Homo sapiens: one gene and its partner. The protein of the gene in region 1 purifies or fractionates together with the protein of each later gene. This does not show direct contact. Each region holds a gene or a part of one and is shown on either strand. Other genes may lie near its edges.

The links. Proteins that work in one complex are often made in the same cells at the same time.
Region 2: the proteins of HIBCH (region 1) and MKRN2 purify together in Homo sapiens (affinity purification with mass spectrometry; 3 studies listed by BioGRID and IntAct, with this or other methods). This does not show direct contact.

Annotation. Positions count from the first base shown.
Region 1 is NC_000002.12:190,204,803-190,211,828, forward strand, and holds part of HIBCH (3-hydroxyisobutyryl-CoA hydrolase, mitochondrial isoform 1 precursor), read right to left. Parts: intron 4,112-7,026; coding exon 4,078-4,111; intron 431-4,077; coding exon 315-430; 3' UTR 1-314. UniProt on the Homo sapiens protein: Hydrolyzes 3-hydroxyisobutyryl-CoA (HIBYL-CoA), a saline catabolite. Has high activity toward isobutyryl-CoA. Could be an isobutyryl-CoA dehydrogenase that functions in valine catabolism. Also hydrolyzes 3-hydroxypropanoyl-CoA.
Region 2 is NC_000003.12:12,560,080-12,567,105, reverse strand, and holds part of MKRN2 (E3 ubiquitin-protein ligase makorin-2), read right to left. Parts: intron 6,350-7,026; exon of another isoform or gene 6,107-6,349; intron 1-6,106. UniProt on the Homo sapiens protein: E3 ubiquitin ligase catalyzing the covalent attachment of ubiquitin moieties onto substrate proteins.

The DNA of each region.
Region 1 (7,026 bases):
CTGACAAAAACCAGACAGTAAATAATTAGGCTTTGTAGGCTTTACCATCTCTATTGCAACTACTCATTTCAAAGCAGCCACAGATAATATATAAACAGATGAGTATAGCTAGTTCCAATAAAGCTTTATTTGTGAATTCTGATAATTTTCACGTCATGAATTATTAGTCTTTGATTTCTTTTCCCAACCATTTAAAAATGCGGAAACCATTCTTAGCTTACAGGGTATATAAAAACAGGCAGCAGGCTGGATTTGGCCCACATGCTGTAGATTGCCAACCCATGCTACAAAATATACCTTAAAAGCCTGTCACCTCAAAATTTCAAATCACTGCTTCCCAAAGACTTAAAGTGATTATTCAAATCTTCCTCAGTAACTTCTTTTAGATCAGCTGGTTTCCATTTTGGACTCTGGTCTTTATCAATTAAAACTGTCAAGAGAAGATACAAATGTTAATACCATTATTTTTGTCTAATATTGCTAGATTTTACTTACTGAATTGACAGAAATTCTTATACTAGGCACATTTTTCTATCATACTTTTTTCCTGCAAAATTTTTATATGTATTCTATTTTTCTTTTAAATTAAATCTCCAGGGATGGACAGCAATATACTTTTGATGACTGGGGTGGATATTTTCTAACTTCCTAAGCCTCATGTCTTAGCTTTAATAAAGCCTACTGAATTAATCCAGTGGTTTAAACATTAGAATTCTTTTTTTCTTCTTGAAATAAAATTGCCAGTGAAACCTCCACATTACAAAACAGGTAAAACCAGTGGTTTAAAGTAAAGGCAGGGGAGGGCAGAGGGACCAGATGTGCCTTCTAACCTCCTCCACATTGAATTTTGGGAGGAAATTAATTGCTTAAGGTAGAGAAAAGGGGACTTCATGCATAATTAAATGTGGATACTGTTGTTCTGCTGAATCCTCCAGTTCAGACAGCTCTGGATTTAAAAAAATCAGGTTATCATGAAACCGTCTAGTTCTCCTATTTCAGTGTAGTCATCACTCATCATAGCCACATAGTATCCCCACAGGATTATGAGGCAATCTGTAACTTCTCCGAAAAAAAAGGGGGAGGAATGTCCAGTATACTGTAGTTACACACACGTTATCATTTGGGAGACTGGGTGGAAGGTATGCAAGATCTCTATATTATTTCTTACAACCGCATGAATCTACAATGATCTCCAAATTTTAATGTTATGGTTGTGGCAGCAAATTTCAACCATGCTTAAAATGCACATAATTCTTGTGAAGAATGGAAATATTTAAATGTGCAAACTATAGTGAACTAGAAAAACCTAATTTAGCATTTAAAGGCTAAAATAGTTAAAGAAGCAGTATGGGAACCAAGGAAGAAGACTGCCTTGGTAGGTGGAGGGAAGCTTTTACATACAATTAAATGCAGATACGGGAGGTTTGTTTTTAAGATTTAACTGCCTACTATGAGATTCTGGTATCAGATCAGTGGCGATATTAAATACTGATGTTCTGATCCCTACTATTTGAAAGTTTTATATTCCGTGGACAGTGTAAACAAAGAACAACCCCGGCACATTTTTTCCACAAGAATCTCTCTCACTCTAAGTCTTCTGGTCAATACTACCTGTCTCCTTGAGATCCCACTGAAGGACAAGAGCAAAGAGACTATTAATCAAATTTGTTATTTTATTTCAAGCTAACAATTTTTTTACTAGAATACATACAAGTTCGTGCCATGTAGGCAGCTCAGGTTTTGCAAGTCTCCTGAGATAGCCACTACATGGAGTTTGAGTGGGTATCCAGCTCCACTAAGATGGTCTTTTTTTCTTCTTCTATAACCACAAAGTAGTAATTTGTTCTAGATGTTAACAGTAAGAATTTTTAACAACTGTTAAATTTGCTAACTTACTTTAACTTGCTAATATGTTTTTATTATTAGCAAACTGCAGCAAACATTTGACTATGTAAAGAACACAACAGTTTTCAATCTCAGAACAGACGCTGCTTTCTGAAAGAGGCGGCAATATACTTTCTCTTCATTAAAAAGTAGCATAGGCCAGGCGCGGTGGCTCAGGCCTATAATCCCAGCACTTTGGGAGGCTGAGGTAGGCGGATTACGAGGTCAGGAGATCGAGACCATCCTGGCTAACACTGTGAAACCCCGTCTCTACTAAAAATACAAAAAAATTAGGCGTGGTGGCAGGCGCTTTTAGTCCCAGCTACTCGGGAGGCTGAGGCAGGAGAATGGTGTGAACCCGGGAGGCGGAGTTTGCAGTGAGCCGAGATTTTGCCACTGCTCTCCAGCCTGGGTGACAGAGTGAGACTCCATCTCAAAAAACAAAACAAAACAAAAAAAAGTCGTATAATAAGCACTTCCTTTATGAATCAGAACTTTGATGCTGATTGGTTTCAACATTTTTTCCTCAAAATAACAGTATTTATCTAAAAACAGTATCTTTCTTTTTAAAGAAGGGCTATTATAACATATAATGAATACTTTAACAATATAACCCTGTATGCTTACAGGTCCTCTAAAATCAGAGTTCTAGGCTGTAATCCACATGCAGCAAGAATTTGCAGAGAATTTGTGAGGAAAATGCCTATGTTACTTAGTTTCTACAAGACACACTGCCATCTCCTCTGATCAGCTCCATGTGCTGAATACTAAAAAGATTTCAATCAAGTCCTTATTTCTGATATTGTATCATGTCAGAAATGAAGAGAACTCTATGAAGAGTGATTGTTTATCAAAGCTTAAGAGCTGAGAGAACATAACATAACCTTTTATTCAGATAAAAAAGTATATCCAGGCTGGGCACGGTGGCTCATGCCTGTAATCACAGCACTTTGGGAGTCCAAGGCAGCCAGATCACATAATATCAGGAGTTCAAGACCAGCCTGGCCAACATGGTGAAACCCCGTTTCTACTAAAAATACAAAAATCAGCTAGGCGTGGTGGCATGGGCTGGTAGTCCCAGCTACTCAGGAGGCTGAGGTAGGCAAATCACTTGAACCTGGGAGGTGGAGGTTGCAGTAAGCCGAAAGTGCACCACTGCACTCCAGCCTGGGTGACAGTGTGAGACCCTGTCTCCAAAAAAAATAAAATAAAATAAAAAAAACAAAGGATATCCAGAGTCTGCACTATAGTAAAATAATTAATAAAAACAGGAACATTAGATATGCAAAATACATGCAGAGGGAACAACTCATTTTATACAACATAAATAACAGCTTTTTATAAGGATAAGAATTATGCATAAAAAGGAATTGTTGCAAGTATGCTAGAAAAAACAGTCAAGCACGTCAAGCACTTCACTTGCTTTTTCTAAATATGCTGACATTGGAGATTATAAGCAAAATGGAAAGTATTAATAAGACAATCTGCAGATGTTACTAATGACATCATATGGTCTTTTTCCCCAGCAATGTTTAACTGCTGAGGTACAGGCAAGAAGGTGGAAAGTAGGGTTAGACCACTGGTCAATTTTGCCAGGCCAGCACGAAAGAGGGAGAAAGGGTAGGGGATTTGAGGGCTTTTTGTAAGGTAATAAATGCATGTTTCAAAGGCCACAGCAGCAGGATGGCAGCAGGATGAGTTTACAAGCTCAATGCTGCACTTATCAGATGCAGTCCATGATTGTAGGGGCAGGATTACCTTATATATAAATTAGGAAACAGTGGCCAAGTTATGTGAATTTTTAAAACAATTATCAGTTTCAAAGACTGATCTTCCTTTTCATATCCCAGATGGTAACATATTCTTTAAAAACATACACAACTTTGCAATCTTAATAAAAGTTTAATTTTCACTACTAAAACAACTATAGGTTGAGTATTCTTTATCTGGAATGCTTGGGATCAGAAGTGTTTCAGGTTTGATTTTTTTTTTTTTTTTCAGATTTTGGAATATTTGCATTATACTTATGGTCCAATGAACATTTGAGTGTCATGTTGGTGCTCAAATAGTTTCAGATTTTGGTACATTTTGGATTTTAGGATTTGGGATGCATAATCTGTATCTTCTTTAATTAACAGCATATGCTCACAAATCCCATTTCCCCAAAATGGTAAGTTCCCATTTGCCACTTACCAGCTCTAACGCCTTCATGAAAGTCATGACCTCTCTGAAAGAAAATTGAGATTAAATGGGGATAATTTCTGGGTGTCCTTATTCTGGGTTATTTTCTCTCTCCTCTATTCACTTCAGCCTTCCACTCCCATGGCCACAACCTGAACCATGACATTCAGAGACTGAACCACCTCTGATAGCCCACTCTCTGATCACCACCTCCTAAATCTTATTTGCTCAAGTATCTCCACTGCTACAAATCATTGATCTTACTGAGGTCCACAGATCCTATGACTTTCTCCCCATCTGTGCTGGCTTCACTTTGCTCTTCATCCAGCCCAATTTCACCAGTCCTTTAATATGGTCACTTTCCTGTCAAAATGTCATCATCTCCCTCAAACCTTTTTTCCTTTTTTACAATCCTAGCAAAATCCTGGCACCAACTAAACCCTATCACGTACCCCTGCCTGCACTTCAGCAGCTAAGTCTTGCTGCAGAAAATCATACAACTGTGACTGGTTTCATTTAAAATTCATGATCAAAAATCTCAAACAGGCACAGAAAACTGCCAAACAATCCAAGATCTCTTCCCAACTCCCCAAGATAATGATTTTAAGTGTTTTCTGCCTTCTCAACCTCTACCCGTAGAGCACACTCTTATTATAGTCTCAGCCAGTTACTTAACCTCTGACTTCTTTAAAAATACGAGAAGCTCTTAGATATGAAGTCTTGTCTTCTCACCACTAAAACACCTGCAGGCAACTGTGGCCATCTGCACCTGCCTTCTCTTTCAATGCCGTGGAGGAAAGGACCATCCCTTTTTCAAAGACCAGTCCTCCCTTGCATTCCAATTCACATCCCCTCTTGCCTTCTCAAGGATGGACTTTGCTTGATGTGGTCATTCACTTTTATTTTCCTAGAATCATCGATGTAGGCAATATAGCTGAGTTCAAATGTCTAGGTTCACATCCTGATAGCTACATATTAACTATGTGACCTCGGACTAGTAATTTCTCCAACCCTAGTTTCTTTACATGAAAAGGTAATTTATATATCCATCCTAGGATTATTTTAATCCACATCCAAGCACAGTGTCCGACACTAAGTGTTCAGTAAATATTAACTACCATTAGTATCATCAACATAATCTTGTTTCTCTATTGGATCATTCCCAATCATTTTTAAACATGTTCTAGTACCTTCCATCTTACAAAATAAAAAAGGAACTTCATTTGATTCCACAGTCCCAGCTTCTATCCTATTTCACTTTCAAGAGTATTCATCTACACATATTCTCTCCACTTCTTCACATCCCATTTTTCCTCTCCAACTTACTACACTCTAACTTCTGCCCCCACTCCTCTAAAATGGCTTGCCAAAACCACCCATGACATCGGCATCGCCAAGGTCAAATGACACTTCTAACCTCGTCTACACTTTGACAGCGTTCAACACTGTCCATTACACCCTCCTCCCCGAAACATTCCTCACTTTCTTTTGTGACACTACACTCTCCTGGTCCTCCTACCTCTCCATCCTTTTTTTCCTTCCTACTGCTCTTTCTCTACCACACCTCAAAATGTTAGAGTTCCTTAGGGCTCAGGTCTGGACTCTCATTTTCTTTATAATATGATCTTACCTATTCAGTGCTCAACATAGCAGCCTGAGTGATCAATTCTTTAAAGTATAAGATCATGGCATTCCTCTCCTCATAATCACCTAGTGGCTTCCCATTTTACTCAGCCAAAGTCCTTAGAGAGACCTTCAAGGCTCTGTATGCTCTGCACAGCCTTTCTCTACACTGTTTCCTCTGACCTCATCTCTCACTCACCACAACCTCTGCCCCCCATCCGCTTCCACACGGCCTCTTTGTGGTCCCTAGCACAGGCAGTCATGCTCCAGCCTCACAGCTTTGTTCTTGCAGTTCCCACTGCCTGGGATGCTCTTCCTCTAGATAATGGCATGGGCTCACTTCCTTACTTCTTTCAGGAATTCACTCAAAGAACATCTCAGTGAGGCCTTCTCTGGTCATCCCATCTACAATTCATCCCCCTGTTACTCTATATCACATATCCTGCTTCCTTTTTCTTGTTAATATTTATAATCATATAATATATATTTTATGTATTAATCTTGTTTACAGTCTATTTCCCCATTATAAAGTAAGTTCCATGAGGGCAGGTGTTATCCTACTCCCTACTCCCCAAGATAATGATTTAAACTGTTTTCTGCCTTTTCAACCTCAACCCCTGGAGCACACCTATGTACCTGGAACCTATGTACCTGGGTACCTCTAACAGTGTCTACGACATAGTAAGCACTCTTGTTTAGTAAATAACGAATCCCCAAGGTTTTCTTAATTGCTGTTGGTGTCTTTCAGATTTAAATCTCCAACTCATTCCTCTAATCTCTAACTCCTAAATGCATTCCTTCCCTCACATCCAGCAAGTCCTATCTATTCTATCTCCTACATGTGTCTCAAATCCATTTACTTCTCTCAATTGCCACCATGCTTGTCTCAAAACTACTATTTCACACCTGGATCACTGCAGGAAATCTATATCTGGTCTCTAAACCGTTCTTGAACCTCTCCAACCCTATCTCCACACAGCAGCAACAATTTCCTTCTTAAAGCAAATTGAACCGAATGAAATGAAAAATCAAATCACCTCCTGCTTAAGCCCAAGAGTCTTCTCAACATACTCCTTTCTCATCCTTTAGGTCACAAATGAAGTGACATCACAAAGATGTCTTCCCTGATCTACTTAAGGAGGTTTCCCATTGCCCCCCAACTCCCTCCTGTCCCTGCATAATCTCTTCTATCACCAACCCTGTATGTTTTCCTTTAGAGTACTTATCACAATTTATAATTATTTTACTTATTTTGTTTACTTGTTCTTTGTAGTCTCAGTAGACTAAACCCATGAAAATAAAGGACTGTGTCTTCTTATTCAACAATATAAGGCTAAC
Region 2 (7,026 bases), on another chromosome or scaffold:
TAAATTACTAGATATGCCAAAAAGCAGAAAATAATGTGACCTATAACCAGGAGAAAAATAAAGAACAGGAATTACAGAGATGATGGAATCAGCAAAATAAGACCTTAAGAACAGCTATTATACATATGCTCAATATGCTGAAAGATTTAAAGAAAAACATAAACATAATGTGGAGAGAAATGGATGATTTAAATAAGACCAAATACTAGGTGTGGTGGCTCACGCCTATAATCCCAGCGCTTTGGGAGACTGAGGTGGGTGGATGACCAGAGGTCAGGAGTTCGAAACCAGCCTGGTCAACATGGTGAAACACCATCTCTATTAAAAATACAAAAATTAGCCAGGTGTGGTGGCAGGTGCCTGTAATCCCAGCTACTTGGGAGGCTGAGGCAGGAGAATCACCTGAACCCTGGAGGCGGAGGTTGCAGTGAGCCAAGATCGCGCCATTGCACTCCAGCCTGGGCAATAAGAGCGAAACTCCACCTCAAAACAAAACAAAACAAAAAACAAATGAAACTTCTAGAAGTGAAAAATACAATGTCTGAAATGAGAATTACATTAGATGAGTTTAGTAGATGGGATACTACAAAGGAAAATATCAGAATACTTGAAGACACAGAATAGAAACCATCTGAGAGAGAGAGAGAGAGAAACAAACTTGCTTCTGACTACCAAGGAGCATGGATCTTGGCTTCTCACTGTAAAAAAACAAAACAAAACAAAACAAACCCAACTGAAAAATGAAACAAAATATGTGAAACAACTGCTTTCAGACAATAGAAAAAAGGACTGGTCCTTAAGAGAAGGGAAACACAGGAAGTAAGCCCCACATTTAGTCTGACTTCCTACCTGGAGGCATATTCTAGGTCTTGGTACTGGGAGTAGAACCTCAGGCAAATCACAGAGATTGAGTTTAGGGAGGCTGCAGGGATTCTTTAAAGATCCATAAATAGTCTGGGCTCAGAGGCTCATGCCCGTAATCCCACCACTTCAGGAGGCCAAGGTGTGAGGACTGCTTGAACCCAGGAGTTTGAGGTCAGCCTGGGCAACATGGCAAAACCCAATCTGTATAAAAAATACAAAAATCAGCCGTGCATGATGGCTACTTGGGGGCCTGAGGTGGGAGGACTGCTTGAGCCCAGAAGGAGAGAGCCTGCAGTGAGCTCTGTTTGCACCACTGTACTCCAGCCTGGGTGACAAAGCAAGACCCTGTCTCAAAACAAACAAAAAAACAAACAAAAAACCCTGTAAATAGAACCACACATAGGCCGCATGCAGTGGCTCATGCCTGTAATCCCAGCACTTTGGGAGGCCAAGGTGAGTGGATTGCTTGAGCTCAGGAGTTTGAGATGAGACTGGGCAACATGGTGAAACCTCGTCTCTACCAAAAAATATACAAAAAATTAGCCAGGCACGGTAGCGTGCACCTGTGCTCCCAGCTACTTGGGAAGATGAGGTAGGAGGATCGATTGAGCCCAGGAGGCAGTGGTTGCAATAAGCCAAGATCATGCTGCTGCACTCTAGCCTGGGTGACAGAGTGAGACCCTGTCTCCCAAAAAAAAAAAAAAAAAAAAAAAAAAAGGTAAGTTGGGGAAAGAATCTTTTCAACAAATGATGCTGGACCCAAAATCGACTTGGAAAAAACTTAAATATGTACCTGCTGATATGACCCAAAATGAAGTATAAAACAACCTATGACGTATTCTAGCCAGAAACAATTAATTTGAATCCACAAAACTCCAGATCTAACATCCAGTTCATAGAAAATACAGGAGACTGGGGACAACCTATGAAAGACATCTCGAGAAAACAACCAAATAAATACAAAAGAGGCTGTACGTGGGACCTAGGCCTACTGTCTTTATAAGTGCCATGTAACTAAAGGAGGCTGAGTTTGGAAGACAGTTTGACAGTTTCTTAAAAAATGTAAACATAAATCTACCATATGACCCAACAATTCTACGCCTAGGTATGTACCCAAGAAAATGAAAATCTATGTCCACACAAATACTTGTACATGAATGTCCAAAGCAGCACTATGCATAACAGCCAAAAAGTGGAAACAATCCAAATGTCCATCAACTGATGAACAGACAGAGAAAATGTGATTTATCCATACAATGGGCTCTTATCCAGCCATAAAAAGGAAAGAAGTACTGGCACACACTACAACATGGGTGAACCTTGAAAACATTACGCAGAGTGAAAGAAGCTGGACACAAAAGACCACATGTTGCATGATTCCATTTATATGCAATGTCAGAAAAGGCAAATCTACAGAGACAAAAAGTAGATTAAGTGGTTGCCTAGGGTTGGGAGGAGAGAAGTGAGGGTGACTGTTAATGGGCACAAGGGATCTTTTGGGGGTGATAGAAATGTCCTAAAATTTAACTGTGGTGATGGTTGTACAACTTTGTAAATTCATTAAAAAGTTTTGCACTGTACACTTCAAACAGGTAAATTTTATGGTATATAAGTTATACCTCAGAAAAAGCTGTTAAAAAAGAGAAAAAAGGGAAGGGACAATGCTAGGTTAGCAGACAGAACACAAGGGACATAACCAGATGCAATACTTACCTCTGGACTAGAATCTGGTTTCAACAAACCAGATACAAAAGACATTTTTGAAACCAGATATTTTGAAAGATATTTTGAAATAAATGTGAGTATGGACTAGGTATAAAATGAAAATTTATTAATATGGAAAGTTAAACACAATTAACTGAGAAGAGTAGATTATAAAACAGCTAATGGTGCAGCTTCTATAGAAAAACAGTACGGAAGTTCCTTAAAAAATTAAAAATATATTTACCATATGATCCGGCAATTCCACTTCTGGGTATAGACACAAAATAATTCAGGCCAGGCCCAGTGGCTCACGCCTGTAATCCCAGAACTGTGGGAGGCCGAGGTGGGTGGATCACCTGAGGTCAGGAATTTGAGACCAGCCGGATCAACATGGTGAAACCCCATCTCTACTAAAAATACAAAAATTAGCCGGGCGTGGTGGTGGGCGCCTGTAATCCCAGCTACTTTGGGGGCCGAGGCAGGAGAATCACTTGAACCTGGGAGGGAGAGGTTGCAGTGAGCCAAGATCACGCCACTGCACTCCAGCCTGGGCAACAGAGTGAATCTGTTTCAAAAAAAATAGAAGACTTCAAAGTAGGGACTCAAACAAACATTTGCACACCCGTGTTCATACCAGCATTATTCACAATAGCCAAAAGGTGGAAGCAACTCAAGCGTGCGCTAATGGACGAATGCATAAACAAGATGTGGTCTATCCATACAATCAAGCTTAAAAAGAAAGGTGATTCTGGCCGGGTGTGGTGGCTCACACCCGTAATCCCAGCACTTTGGGAGGCCGAGGCAGGCGGATCATGAGGTCAGGAGTTCAAGACCAGCCTGGCCAACATGGTGAAACCCCGTCTCTACTAAAAATACAAAAAGTAGCCGGGCATGGTGGCAGGTGCCTGTAATCCCAGCTACTCGGGAAGCTGAGGCATGAGAATCGCTTGAACTCAGGAGGCGGAGGCTGCAGTGAGCCGAGATCGTGCCACTGCACTCCAGCCTGGCGACAGAGTGAGACTCCGTCTCAGGAAAAAAAAAAAAAAAAAAAAAAGAACTAGACAACAGGAGGGAATGGTATGCAAGGAATGCCAGGGAGGCCCGAGAGGCCCAGACTGCTGGTGTCTCCAGAGAAAGGGTACTAGTGAACATGCTGCACATCCGCCCCAATCAGAAACCTCTGACTTCTCCACCTGTTTCTCTCCCCAAAAGCAGAGGAAGTGCTGACCAGACCTACCTGACAGTTTATTTTTTTCCCAGGGAAATTATAAAAGGATATTCTAGTATATAAGTCAGTCTCTCATGCGTTTGGCTAGTATGAGCCACCTCTATGTACACCAACAGAATCAAATTTCTGAGCCTACAAAATGAGAACTGGACCTCATGACTTAAGTGACTATACAATGGTGCCATCCTACAGCCTTTGCTAGGTAGTCAGCTAGGCTTTCCCCAGGAAACACCCTCTTGTGGCCTACCATTAGATCAGCAGTCCCCAATCTTTTTGGAGCCAGGGACCAGTTTTATGGAAGACAATTTTTCCACGGAATGGGGGGATGGGGGATGGTTTCAGGATGATTCAAGCACATTACATTTATTGTGCACTTTATTATTATAATATATAATGAAATAAGTATACAACTCACCATAGTGTAGAATCAGTGGAACACTGAGCTTGTTTTTCTGCAACTAGATGGTCCCATCTGGGGGTCATGGGAGACAGTGACAGTTCATCAGGCATTAGATTCTCATAAGAAGCACACAACGTAGATCCCTCACATGCACAGCTGACAATAGGGTTAGTGCTTCTATTAGAATCTAATGCTGCTGCTGATCTGACAGGAGGTGGAGCTCAGGTGGTAATGTGAGTGATGGGGAGTGGCTATAAACACAGATAAAGCTTTGCTCACTTGCCCACTACTCACCTCCTGCTGTGTGGCCTGGTTCCTAAAAGGCCATAGACTGGTTGGGGACCACTGCACTAGATCAGACATTGTGCAGTAATTTGCCATAAGGCTGTTAAAGTTTTATTTTTTAAAAAGAAAAAGCACAAACAGAAGCTGGGAAACTTTTTGTTAGAAACTTAGAGTTCCTGTTATTTACAATACCGATTTTATAAATGCACAGAAGAGAGTTACACAGCAGATGTGAGACTGCTATCCTTAGGAAGGTCTGCTTCCAAGGCTGCCCCTTGCCTGGCATCTGGGAACTTGGCTAGTAACAGTTCTCTACACAGATACAAAATTTTCCCTAAATGATGGAGAGTGTCTCGCTGTGTCTAAACTGATGTACAATGTAGTTCATGCTGAAAACCTGCTTGCCTTCTGGGAGTCTGGAATTTTGGTTCATGCTAGGCAGAGGGTGCCTATGTGACCAGCTTGGGCACTGAATCCCTAATGGGCTTCCCTGGACACATGTTGCTGCATTTTCATTGCTGTGTGGCCCTCTCAGGGAGGGACAGATGTAGGAAGCCTGCACCCAGGCTCCTCCAGACCCCCCATGTCTTCTGCCATCATGATCTGGCTGTGACCCCTTACTAGATATGGTAATAATCTCAGCCTTGAATACAGCTGTATACTGGGACCCACTTGTCCTAGTTCTAGACAGTCTCTGGATTTGGGGTGGTCTTGGAGATCCCAAACACAAAAGTAGAGTATACATCTAAGCAGTTTGAGAATTATTTTTGAGAAATGCTACTCAAGACTGCAATATTTCAATTGTCCTCAGACATGGTAATCTTTGAAGGTATAATAATTTAAAAAAAAAAGTCAGTGCCAAGAGCCAAGTCTGAATGACAAAGAGGTATCAGGATTAGTAAACTCATAAATACTGAAAGAGGACAGGTTCAAAGTGGCAACATAAGCAGTTAAACAAAAGTGATATCGAATAAATACTGTATAGTTTCTTTCCTTTTCTCGGGTAGAGACAGGATCTTGCTATGTTGCCCAGGCTGGTCTCAAACTCCAGGGCTCAAGTGATCTTCCTACCTCAGCCTCCCCAAGTGCTGGGATTATAGGAATGAGCCACTGCACCAGCCAATACTGTATTGTTTCTTTTGAAGCAATTAGAACAGAAAATTTCCTGAAAGAACCAGGGTGGAAGACTACCACAGGCCCTCTACCAGATACTATTTGTTAACAAGGCAGACAAGAAGAAAGACTTTTTTAGGTAGTGGTCTCCTGCAAGGATGCCTTTTATAATTCTACCTCCGCCTTCCATACGTCCTATCCAGAAAACTTGCCTTCCAAACTGCACTAATTATCTCTTCCACTAAAATACAAATATTTAACTGCCAACCAGAGCTTCTAGTTAATTTTGCCATTTATAAGCTGGTGACTTCATAAAAGCCACTTCACTTCTGTAAGTGACTGAGCTGAGATTTAAACAGATTCAAAAATAATTTCTAGACCACCATCACTGCCTTCAAGAAAGGAAAGTATGAAATGAGAGTTATGTAAGAGGTGAAGTCAGCCCAGTCCTATTTTTGTAGCATATGTCACCATTTCCACTCCCCAGTGACAAGCACAAAGCCACCTAGAGCACATCCTGCTTGTCCTTTGGGGCATCTCTGTCATGTGCTTATAGTCACTCCTCTCCATCTATGTTATACTGATCTTACTCCAAGCCTCTTTCATGTTGCGCTTTGTAATGAATTTCCAACTGCTCAACCTTTCTGATGGACAAACCGCCCCTCATATCTTCCAAGAGAGACGACTGAGACATGAACTGGAGGAGGGGAGAGACGACTAGGTGGGTGAAGTGCATAGCTGGAGACTCAGAGCAGGTAGGTTCTTTCTGGGGGACACTCCAAAGGGGTGTTACCCTGGGTAAACCCAAAAGACTGTTTCAGACAGTATGGCTATTATACACTGCAGAGCATATCAGGTTCACTGCTGGCCACAGAACCACCAGCAGCTCCAGCAGCAGCAGTGCTAAGCAAAACAATCAATCTGGTTTCTTACAGGCCCTTGAATGTTGCCTGTTTAGCAAAACGCTTTTGCAAATCACTTCCAAGTATACAGGTAATTTGCATCCTCAGTGTCTTTTTTTTTTTTTTTTTTTACATTTTCCTACATATTTTCACAGGCTAAAATTTTACGGCTATACTCCTTGTGACAGCAGATCCACTGAGGGGGAAGGAAGCAAATGGTAGGCACTGTGGCAGGCTTGCAATAAATGTACTGATTAGAGGCGGGAATGAAATGAAGTACAGTGTGGTGGTGAAGACACTGAAGTCAGACTGCTTGCTATGTGAGCTTAAGCAAGTTATTTAAGTCACTGAGCCTCAGTTTCCCCATCTGTAATGTGATTATAATAACTGCACTTACTTCATAGACTGCTATGATAGACTACTGGGACATTTAACTGAGAAAATGCATGTAAGTGCTCATCCTAATACAAAATAAATGGTTTGTTGCTATTATTTAATTTTTAAACAGCCCTGCCGGTTAGGCATTACCA